Linked DNA regions of Homo sapiens. The protein of the gene in region 1 purifies or fractionates together with the protein of each later gene. This does not show direct contact. Each region holds a gene or a part of one and is shown in the gene's direction. Other genes may lie near its edges. The genes, in order: INSC, RAP1A and OCIAD1.

Region 1 (3,832 bases):
TTATCTCCCCTCCCCCTAAGGGCTCTCTCTTTTATTTTCTTTGCCACTATTTCTTTTTTTTTTTTCCTCCATCTCTTTTTTATACTTGGTCTTTTTTCTTCACCAAGTTCATCTCTGTCTGTTTTAATATTTCCTTCTTGTTCTTTTTTCTCTGTTGTCTCTTTTTCTCTGTTTCTTGGCTATTTCCCTTTTCTGTCTTATTTGCTCTCTTGATAGGTCTATGTTCTATTTCGCTCTGTCTCCTTGTCTCCCTTCTTGCTTTATTTTTATCCCTAATGATGCAAAAATGCATTGGTGGCCTTGTTTCCTCATCTTCAGAAAATCCCTGGTTCTGTTTTCATGGTGACAACTCAGGGAAAATGGGGTTATCTTTCCCAGTTGGAGCCAAGAAGAATCAGAAAGTGCTGTGAAGTTTACCCTTGTTAGTCTATGGGGTAAACCACGCCCCATGAGAGTCGAGATGTGTGTGTTAGAGGCAGTTCTGGGGAGTCTACTTCCTGTTGCTAGGGTCACAGACCCTGCTCATTAATGCACAGAGACACACGCTCCTTCTCTTTGACCTGGCCTGGACATGACAGCACCTGTGACTCCCAGCAACCAGCTCAAACTATCCTCTCTTTTCACTTTGTTGGCCTGATTTCTCAGCAACAGGCTACCTGCCATGTCCAGGTAATGAGTGGTACCCCTGCCTTGTGCTCAATATAACCTTGTATCCTGGGGTTGCAGCATCCTACCTGTGTGCATAGGTCTGAGTGCCCTGGAGTCAGACTCCTGTGTGATGTCTGGAAGGCCACTTTCCCCCTCTGAGCCCTAGTTTCCTTATTTCCAAAAGGGAGATCATGACACTTAGCTTGCAGCATCATGTAGGGATTAAGTGAGGTGCTATGGGGAGATTCTCAGTGTTTGCATTCCCTCCTTCTTTGCTTCTTTTGCCATTCTAGATATTCCCCCACTCTTTTTGCTTCCAGGGGTGGGAGAGGAGGGGCACCTTGTTCCCTGCTGTGTATATGCTCAGGAAGAGGGAAGAAATTAATATTTATCAAGCACTTAGCATGCATTGTCTCAGTTAACTGGTAAACAGGTCTAGGTAGGTGCACAGCTCACATTTAGTTTCAGGTTGCTCTATCAGCAGATCTCAATATTAAAGCACTTCGTTTATTCATTTCTTTTCAGCCAACATTTATTGAGCCCTGTGCCAACCTCTGTGTTGTCTGCTATAGATACAGAGAAATAGAAAACAAGATCCTTACTCTCGAGGAGCTCAGAGTCTAGTGTGGGAGATAAATACCTAAAAGCTAGTTATGGCCAAGTGTGAGAAGCTTGAGGTCAGCCCAGGGGCCCTGGTTGCACAGGGGAGGGAGGGATGGACTGTCTCTGCTTCAGGATAATTGGGGAAGCCTTCATGGGGGAGGTGACAATAGGCAGGAGCAGGAAGTCACTTCAAGTCACAAGTAAGAGTATGAGCAAGGAGGAGGGGGTATAGCTCAGAGGTAGAGCATTGGGCTGAAGATTAAGAATATGAGCAAGGACACATGGACACAAAATAGAAATAGCATACTCATTGCTCATTGTGTGGGGAGCTGGGGAGTGATTTTATTCTGCCAGCACCTCTCTTTCCTGTTCATCCCCCTTGCCAGGTGTTGAATTTCTCAGTAGCAGAATCCCTGTCTACTTTTACAATATGTTCTCCCTCTCTTTTCCTCTTTTTTCCATAGTGCTTTCTATAGCACCTTGCTGAATTTATGGATGAATGAATAGTTCTTGCTGTTCTAAGGTTACTCTAGGGATCTGGAAATAATAAAGACCATTATTAAGATTATTAACAGCTTTCAGATGACATCTATCTTAGTGATCAAGGTGCAAATAAAGCTAGCTGACCAAGAGATGTGGTTGCTATGTTGACCAGGTGACCAAGATGGTGACTGAGATGCCAAGTGGCTAACATGATGATCAACCCAAATTGTCTGGTAAATGCACCACTTTCTGAAATGCACATTTCAGGGTAGGTGAAGGAAATACATGTACCTGACATGGCCCAGTCTGACACGTGTCACCTCTTCTGTCTTCTCCCCAGGCTGCTCTGCGTAGATTGGCTGGGGTCTGCCCTGAAGGCCTCCAGGACTCTGACTTTCAGCAGTTGGTCCAGCCTCGGCTGGTGGACTCCTTCTTACTCTGCAGCAACATGGAGGAGAGTTTTGTGTAGTGAGTGTGGGCGAAGAAATACATTTGGCTGTTCTCACACCCCCTCTGACTATGCACCAGTGAACACATCTGAGTACATACCAGCTCTCCTCATCTTCTTATTTATACTTAACTTATTTTTGTGTGAAATAAATGGAGGACAAAATCTTAGAGCAACATCATCAAACAGTCTTTGGTCCTTGAGAATCTTCTTTGTGTTTTATTTTTTGATTTCTGTAGCTTTTCAGTTGCAGATGTTGAAATTCGTAATGACAAATATGACAAATTGTCATGGGTGATTCCACTTCATCTTATTTTTTCTACTCTCACTATACAATCTTGCCTCATTTTTTAAAACTTTGGAACCAGAGGATTTCAACTGCCTAGCAAGTTTTTTTTTTAAGTTGGATTTGCTCTTCCCAAAAATCTAAAATGAATTTAATAATTGGGTAGAATATATTGGAAAGAAGTTTCTTTTTCTTTAATAAATGGAATCATATAAAATGTATCCCGGATTTTCTTATTAAATTGTATTTTAAACTAGGTTCTTGCTTCCCAGGTTTCATTCCCCAAAAACTTTTCCAACCATTAAAAGTACACACAGAATTGTCTTGTTTTCATAGGTGTATAAATAGGTTAAGTTCTGAGTGACTTAGTGAGAAACCAAAGTGACTTTCAAAAATACACCCAAAGGCACCAGAAACCCTGCTTCCTTTGGCTTCTTTGCTTTTGTGTAACCTCCTGTTCACCTCCTGGTGAATAGAATCCTCAGATGAGGCTTATTGAATGATTGATTCCTCCTCAAAAGTATACTTGAAAGCAGTGGTGTGCTGAAGCCAGCTCATGCCCACTCACAAGGGACAACTGTGAGAATTTCTTCCTAACTCTGCACTCAGTGACCTTGCGTTGGTAGCCATGAGCTACTTCATGAGCCCTCATGTTGAAATTGGCCATAGTGGGAGTATTTACACCACAGAAATTCACAGATGCTATAAAGCACAGCTTTCGCTTTTTTTTTTTTTAGAGAGAGCTGGTTTACCAATTTCACTGCTTGAAAGTATCACAAAAATCTGGGGATCCTTTTGAAAATATAAATGCCATCATATTGTGATATAATTTATACAATATAATATAATTGTGTAAAATCATGATTATAATAATGTTTCAATAAACATTTCTTAAATTCCCAATTACTAGTTTACATGAGTTAACCTAATGAACCAAGTCCTGGGCTAAGCATCTAATTTGCATTATCCAATTTATTCCTCACAATAATCACATGAGTATTAATTAGTATATTCATATATGTTATTACATATGATCAGGTTATTAAATTACTTGCACAAGGTCAGTAGCTAGTAAGTGGTGCTAGGATTTGATTCTGGCAATAGCTATTACCAAAGCCTTTGTGCTGAAGTCATATGCTATATACAAAGGTAATGTCTAGGTCCTCCCACCTAATGTGATGATGATTATTATTATTACGATAGAAAACACTTGTGCAACATTAACCAGGTGCCATGGACTTGTTTTATATTATTCTCAGTATAGATATTAACATTTACTACTACATACCCATTTTACAGAGAAGAAACAGAGGAAACTCATTTTACAGATACAACAATGGAGCTGAAGTAGCAAGAAAATGGCA
Region 2 (3,500 bases), on another chromosome or scaffold:
ATTCAAGAAATTTATATATTTATAATTGCATATTTTTTAAATCATAGGAGCAATTTACAGCAATGAGGGATTTGTATATGAAGAACGGCCAAGGTTTTGCACTAGTATATTCTATTACAGCTCAGTCCACGTTTAACGACTTACAGGACCTGAGGGAACAGATTTTACGGGTTAAGGACACGGAAGATGTAAGTATTTTTTCTCTCTGTAAGATGTTATGCCATCTCTCTGTGGCCAAATAAAAAAGTGCCTGTTTTCTCTATTAGTAGAGGATTTGGAAGCTATCTACCACATGCCTGAAAGAGCCCCTGTGACCAAAAGAAAAAAATTTAACTTTCAAAATTAACCTCAAAATTATGTGGTGAGATGTTTAGAAAATGAGGACATATGTGATAAAGTACTCATTGTGCTATAGGTTAAAAAGTGCAGTAGAGGAAAAAGAGGAGCCAAAGAATACTTCATAGAAGTGGGACCTGAGTTGAGCTTTGAAAGGTGATGGTTGTGTCAGAAACAGTGTTCAAAGAACATTATTAAGATCCATAGTGGTGTGTTTTTATTTCTAAAATTCCATTGGTATAATTCACACATCACAGTCTACCTCCCGGGCTCAAGTGATCTTCCCACCTCAACCCCCTGAGTAGTTGGGACTACAGGTGTGTGCCACCCTGCCTGGCTGATTGTTTTTGAATTTTTTAGTAGAGACCAGGTCTCACTATGTTACCCAGGCTTGTCTCAGGCTCCTGAGCTCAAGCAGTCCTCCTACCTCAGCCTCCCTGGGATTACAGGCATGAACCATTGTGCCTGGCCAGGATTATATTCTTAAAATAATTTGGCATATCTATGTAGTAGGATCTCTTCCATTTTTTTTTTTTTTTTGTCTCTTCCTTCTTCCTTCGCCTCTTCCCCTCAACATATACTTTTCGTTAGTATTTGATGAAGCTTGCGGTCCCAACTAATGCATTTCAGTTGGTGGCAGATAATTGCTTATTTATTTTTTTAAAAGGCTAAGTAATGAGTATGTTATTGTTCATTTTACGTTTTTTTCTTCCCACAGGTTCCAATGATTTTGGTTGGCAATAAATGTGACCTGGAAGATGAGCGAGTAGTTGGCAAAGAGCAGGGCCAGAATTTAGCAAGACAGTGGTGTAACTGTGCCTTTTTAGAATCTTCTGCAAAGTCAAAGATCAATGTTAATGAGGTAACCTACAACTGCTGGGCAGCACAAACAAGTGCCTTTTTAGTTTGCTTTAAGTTAACAGCCAGACTTTTAAGAAAAAATTTTTATCTTTTAAGCAATCTTGATTCCATAATTTTATAGGAAACACTAAGTAATTCCTGGAAACTATATTTTTTAGCTTGCATAAGGTCACTTTGATGGCTGTATGAGGATACTTAAATTTACCTTATTGTAAAAGAGGAAGCTAAAATTGAAGAATGTGTGTAAAATCCTGCTAAGCCTCTAAGTGATATGCGATAAAGTGGTGTGTAAAAATTGTTACATCACCTTATATTGTAATAATTATTTACCCAAATGTATATAAATAGGTTGTAAAGTCAAGTTGGAAAATAATATGTTTTTATGGATATCACAGAATTGTGTTCTGAGTCTTACCTCACCTTTGGTGCATGACTCATAAGTGGGTAATCTGTGTGGGTATGGACATGTACCTGGAATTCACTCAGTCCTTTAGGCCTGATACAGCTGATGCACAAGGCTTTTGTGTGGGGCATGGGGGTGGGGTCACTGGGTTAAGCACTCCACTATCTTGAAAACAGCTGTGGACAAGAATACTTAGCAAATAAGCTGCATGCCTGGGTGTAAAGGGCCAACAGTTTACTAGTTTACTGGGCCCCTAAAAATTTAGAGCAATTTCCAACTGTCCCCACCAGTCAACCTTAAATAGTTCCCTTGCTTTTGTTAACCTTAACATAAGCCTTTTAAAAAAATAAAAACAACAGAGTGGGCTTCTTTCCTGCCGTTGCTTTTGCCATTTGTAGCATTACAGGTAATCAGTCAGAATTCAGATCACTTAACTACATAGGTGAGAGTGAGAGTGGGTTAAGTTATGAGTCCTCTGTTTTTGCTATTCTCTCTGGCCTGTGGTTCTGCTGGCCACTTTTTCTTGACTAATATTATGCTTATAGACTATTTGACTTTTAAAAATGACCAGGTTACTTTAAACACCTGGCAGGTAAAAAAAAATTAAGCTTGCTTCAACTTCTGTATTTTACAGATAATCAAGAATGCCAAAGCTTGTTTTTTTATGTGAAACCATTTTTAACAAGTACATAAAAACAAGAAATTTATAAATTGTATTTATTCAGCAAATATTTATTGACTATTGTGTGTCTGGCACTGTGTCAGGCCCTCAGGTAACAGTCACTCAGACAGACACTATTCCTGCCCTGAAGAAGTTTGCATCCTACTGGGGGAACAAGTCTTTCAGCAATAATTAAAGAAAAAAAGTGATTTTGATAAAGAATTTGTTAGAAATTGTGAATATGTTTGGCTAGCAGAACAGTGACATGAGGTCACTATCTACAAGATAATTGGCCTTACGGGATGTGGTTCCTTGCTGTCCTTGTCCTTACCTCCATGGGACCCACCAACCAAGTTCATCAGACTCCAGGCTCCGGTGGGGCTGGGTTGGGCCTGAGTCCAGTGCATAGGACTTCTCCCTTTGGGAGCCAGAGGACAGTACACTACATGTTTGTGAGAACCTACATGCTATTAAACTTCCTCTGGATTAGTTTCCAATGCAGCAGAGATACTTTTTCATAGCAGTCTTGTTAAAGCAGAGAGTTTATAAACGAGGGTTTATAAAAACAAACATAGAAAAACCATAAAATGAAATGCATTAGCCATCTCAAGAATCTTTACTTTTTGGAAAACATACAAACTTTATGCTCAGTTCTTGAGAGTGGGGAGAATGGAGCAGATAATTTGAGTTTCTTTTAATATTTTTCTCTTTATAACCCAATAATCCAGCTACAGGATTTCTTTGGTAGTTAATAGTTCCTCACACAACTTTTGCCTTGTAAATTTTTTTGTGAGTTTTGAATGCCTGAAGTATAGAGAGATACTTTCAAAAATTCACCTCTTGGCCTTAAATTTGAAAACAGACACCAGGACATACTGCTTGGCTAAAGAGCCCCCTAATTCATTCATATATATATATATATAATTTTTCAAAAACTCTTATTCACACCACTTTGCAACGTTCTTAAAGTAGTATATGGCTATGCCAGAATCACAGTAGTCTTAATCAAGAATTAATTGTTCTTTGCTGAGGCTGGAATAGTAATTGGAATCAAGACAACCCAATTTAGGAATGGGAGAGGGATTGAGAAACTCTATTCTGTGTTCCCTTTAGATTTTTCTATAGTTCAGAGAGATGAGGAAGAACCTAGGCTGGGGCCTTTCAGCATTTCTAACCAAATATTATAGTTCGAACTTGCCCTCATCACTGAACCATCTGCTGCTGTGAGGTAGGCAATGT
Region 3 (3,732 bases), on another chromosome or scaffold:
CTGCATTCCAGCCTTGGTGATAGAGTGAGACTTTGTCTAAAAACATAAAATAAGATAAAATGGTTAAGAAATCAAAGGAAAAGAATATTTCATTACGTGTGAAATTACATGAAATTCATATGTTTGCATCTAAAAATAAAGTTTTGTTGGAACACAGCTACGTTCATGTGTTTTTGGATTGTCTTTCGGTGCTTTTGCTTTAAAACGGCAATTGAGTAACTGGGACAGAGATTGGCCCACAAAACCCAAAATATTTACCATCTGGCTCTTCATAGAACGTGTTTGCCAACCTCAGGTCTGGAACAGCACTGTCCAGTGTGGCAGCCAGTAGTCACATGTAGCAATTTAACTTTAAAATAACTTGCAGTGAAAGGATATAAAGCAAAATCATAAAAGGAAAGGGAGCATGGGGTGAAGTCCGGCGGAAACCAGGTCCCAAGAGTTCTCTTCCCAGGGAGTGTAAATTTCTCCAACAGCTAGTCATAACAATGTGTGAAGTTGTATCTACCCGGGGAACTCATTAGAGACTCAGTGCCCACAGTTTTTATTGGGGGCTGGTCACTTATTCACCCTCTGCCTAACAGGTACCAAAATTCCAGACTCCTAGAATGAAAGCAGATGTTTGGCATGAACTGTATTTGTACAAACAGTTTGGGCACAGTGAGCCAATTACGCATATCAATGGGGGGAACTGTTTACCAGTCAAGTACCAAGACCAAATTGATCACAGGGTTGGTCACTCAAAGACCAACTTCCATTATCATAAAAAATTCTGTTAGACAGTGCTGGTGTAAAGAACAGTGATTCATAGCTGTTTTTAAGTTATAGCCCCCTTTGAGATTATGAGTTTTGGATTTTTCACTCTCGGTTTTAGGCATATATATATATAGATGTAATATTTTCATATAGTTTAAGGAGTTCACTAGTTTAGAAGAAAGAACATAAGTGTTTAAAATATGTGCTTTTTAATTTTTGCCCCAGCCACCGTATGATTACGGTCAAATATGTTTTGTATTTTGGTTTAGATGGTATACTAGAGCTTAAAAGCTTGAGATCTGGTATCAGACAGATTTTATTAGAATCTGTAACCAACCATTCAACTAGTTGTTTGGCCTTGAGCAAATTACTTAACATCTCTAAGCTTCAGTTTCCTTATCTTTAAAAGGGTGGTAATAACATTATCTACCTTATAGAAATATGATAAAAAGTATAATAAATGAGATAATGCACATAAGGCGCTTAGCATGATGCACAGAATTTAGTCATTACTCAGTAGTGGTTCTTACTTGTAACTTGTTTCTTACCTCTCCTTCATTAACTTTTTCCCCTTCTCTTACTTCAGAAGTAATTTTGAGTCACTTTTACTGTGTTGTCTTAGTTGATGCTGTTGATGAACAGCTGGCTATTTGGAACCTAAGCCTAGATGGTTCATGAATTATATTGTTTAATATTTTGTGATGTTTTCTTAAATTTAAAATGCTCCTTTAATTTTTCCACTATGTATACAGTACAGCTTTTAAAAATGGAACAGTCTTTTTTAAAGGTCTTAGTTATGCAATATAATTCCTAGATGGTTTTACTGCTATTCATTTATCTAATGAACTTTAGACAAAATCTTTTACTTTTGTTGATGTTAACAAGGTCTTTTTCTTCCTATAGCTGTGCCTTTGGCTGCAACAAGTATGTTGATTACTCAAGGATTAATTAGTAAAGGTAAATATTTAAAATTTGAATTTATTTAGCATTTTGGATACCATGTTTGTTTTGTGGTATTTTCCAGGTCTTTAGAAAAAGTAAAGATAACAATGTATCATATTAAACACTATGTAGAAATTCATTGATGAATTTAAACGTTTTATCTCTGTGGACCCACTGGCTCAAATATCATGACTTGAGAATTTCTCCTGCACTAATAGCATCATTAACAATCTGCAAGAGCAAGAAGGTAACTAAACACCAGTATTAGCAGGGCAAACCTGGTCTAGGTGGGCCAATAGCAACATTATTGCCTAGGAGCTTGTTAGAATGCACATTCATGGGGACCAGGAGTCTGTGTTTTAACAAATTCGAAGTGATTCTTATATAATGATTTAAAGATCAGTAGCTCTCTAAACCAGCTTTGTCTGATCACCTGGGGCGGATGAGTGGCGGTGAGTTAGCATTATTTAAAAAATCAGAATCTCAGGGGTCTGGCAGGTGATCTATTTTTAACGAGCCACCGAGGAGACTTTCTTGTCCTAAAGTCTATTGGCTCAAATAGTACAGTAGTGGAATTGAGTTTAGATTGAGTATTAAATGTCTTGAGTCCTGCATTTAAAATGTAGTGGAGTAAGCAGTAGAGTTGCTTAATTCCTTTACTTCATGAACTATCTATCTGGTAATGGGAAGGTGTCCCAGAAAAGGATGGTGACCTTAGGATGGCCTGGAGGCCTATTGTTTTAATTAACTGGCTCCTTCAAAAATGTGACTTAATGATTGGAAGATTTAGCCTTTTCACATTAGGATATGATGTATGGTACTTAGTTTTGACACAATTAGTTGATAAAAGTAGTTTTGGAGGCAAATGAGAGGATTTTTGGGGTAAAAATTTATTTAAGGAACTTCTGAAGAACTTCATTACAATACAGTACCATGACAAAAATCTTAAACATAGAAGCGAGTCAAGATGTATGCACTTATATGTCCTTAAGACTAAGCTGTTTTATAGACTGAGATTGGTTCTGTATTGTGAAACAACAACAACAACAACAACAAAACAAAAAAAACCCCACTTGAATTACATTCTTTGTAGGAAAAACTGGCACAGGGATGAAATTACAGTGTTTATTATTGTTCTGCTTCTTTTATCTATTTTAATCCAGTGTGTCATTTAATAATGATTGGAGCTAGGTATGCAGAAGGTTACACAAAAGAATTTAATAGCTGCTAGTAGTTCACTGGAGGAAACAAATGGATGTGAACATATGTTGAAGCAAATAGAAAATTTAATTACATACTTAATAAGCTACTAAATTGTATAGTAGAGACTCTAAGAGTTGTAGGTGTTCAAAGAAGAAAGATCTTTGTAGGGCTGTTGTAATCAAGGAAAGTTTCTTGAAAGAAGTGGGTTTTGAAGGATGGGCAGGATTTAGATTAAATGAGAAGAAAGAACATACCAGGAAGGAGGGACCTGATGATGAAGACAAATAGGCATAACTATTGGGAGAGGCAATCAGGACTGAACTGAAGAGACAAAATCATGCAGGGAGGAGTGAAAAATCCATTAAATAGCTGAAGTAGAGCCAGGAGAAATTATAATTTGGATTAGGTTATGAAGAGGAGGAAGTTTTTTAGAGATTTTGGGTTTAGGTGCAGTTGAAGACTTTGGGCTACTTGAGGGTACGGTAGAAGTGATATTGGGAGGCCGAGTCGGGTGCATCACAAGGTTAGGAAATCGAGACCGTCCTGGCCAACATGATAAAACCCCATCTCTACTAAAAATACAAAAAAATTAGCCGGGCGTGGTCGTGCGTGCCTGTAGTCCCAGCTACTCAGGAGACTGAGGCAGGAGAATCGCTTGAACCCAGGTGGCGGAGGCTGCAGTGAGCTGAGATGGCGCCACTGCACTCTAGCCTGGGCAACAGAGCGAGACTCTGTCTCAAAAAAAAGGTAAAAATTGAGAGAGACTTTAAGAAAAGAATTTGGAATCCACCAAGACATTTTGCATTTAATCAAAATCCCTGACATTTTGTA

What was found.
Region 2: the proteins of INSC (region 1) and RAP1A purify together in Homo sapiens (affinity purification with mass spectrometry; one large-scale study listed by BioGRID and IntAct). This does not show direct contact.
Region 3: the proteins of INSC (region 1) and OCIAD1 purify together in Homo sapiens (affinity purification with mass spectrometry; one large-scale study listed by BioGRID and IntAct). This does not show direct contact.

What each region holds. Positions count from the first base shown.
Region 1 is NC_000011.10:15,243,838-15,247,669, forward strand, and holds the end of INSC (protein inscuteable homolog), read left to right. Parts: intron 1-2,074; coding exon 2,075-2,203; 3' UTR 2,204-3,371; downstream 3,372-3,832. UniProt on the Homo sapiens protein: May function as an adapter linking the Par3 complex to the GPSM1/GPSM2 complex. Involved in spindle orientation during mitosis. May regulate cell proliferation and differentiation in the developing nervous system.
Region 2 is NC_000001.11:111,703,289-111,706,788, forward strand, and holds part of RAP1A (ras-related protein Rap-1A precursor), read left to right. Parts: intron 1-47; coding exon 48-188; intron 189-1,054; coding exon 1,055-1,198; intron 1,199-3,500. UniProt on the Homo sapiens protein: Counteracts the mitogenic function of Ras, at least partly because it can interact with Ras GAPs and RAF in a competitive manner. Together with ITGB1BP1, regulates KRIT1 localization to microtubules and membranes.
Region 3 is NC_000004.12:48,840,977-48,844,708, forward strand, and holds part of OCIAD1 (OCIA domain-containing protein 1), read left to right. Parts: intron 1-1,659; coding exon 1,660-1,713; intron 1,714-3,732. UniProt on the Homo sapiens protein: Maintains stem cell potency. Increases STAT3 phosphorylation and controls ERK phosphorylation. May act as a scaffold, increasing STAT3 recruitment onto endosomes. Involved in integrin-mediated cancer cell adhesion and colony formation in ovarian cancer.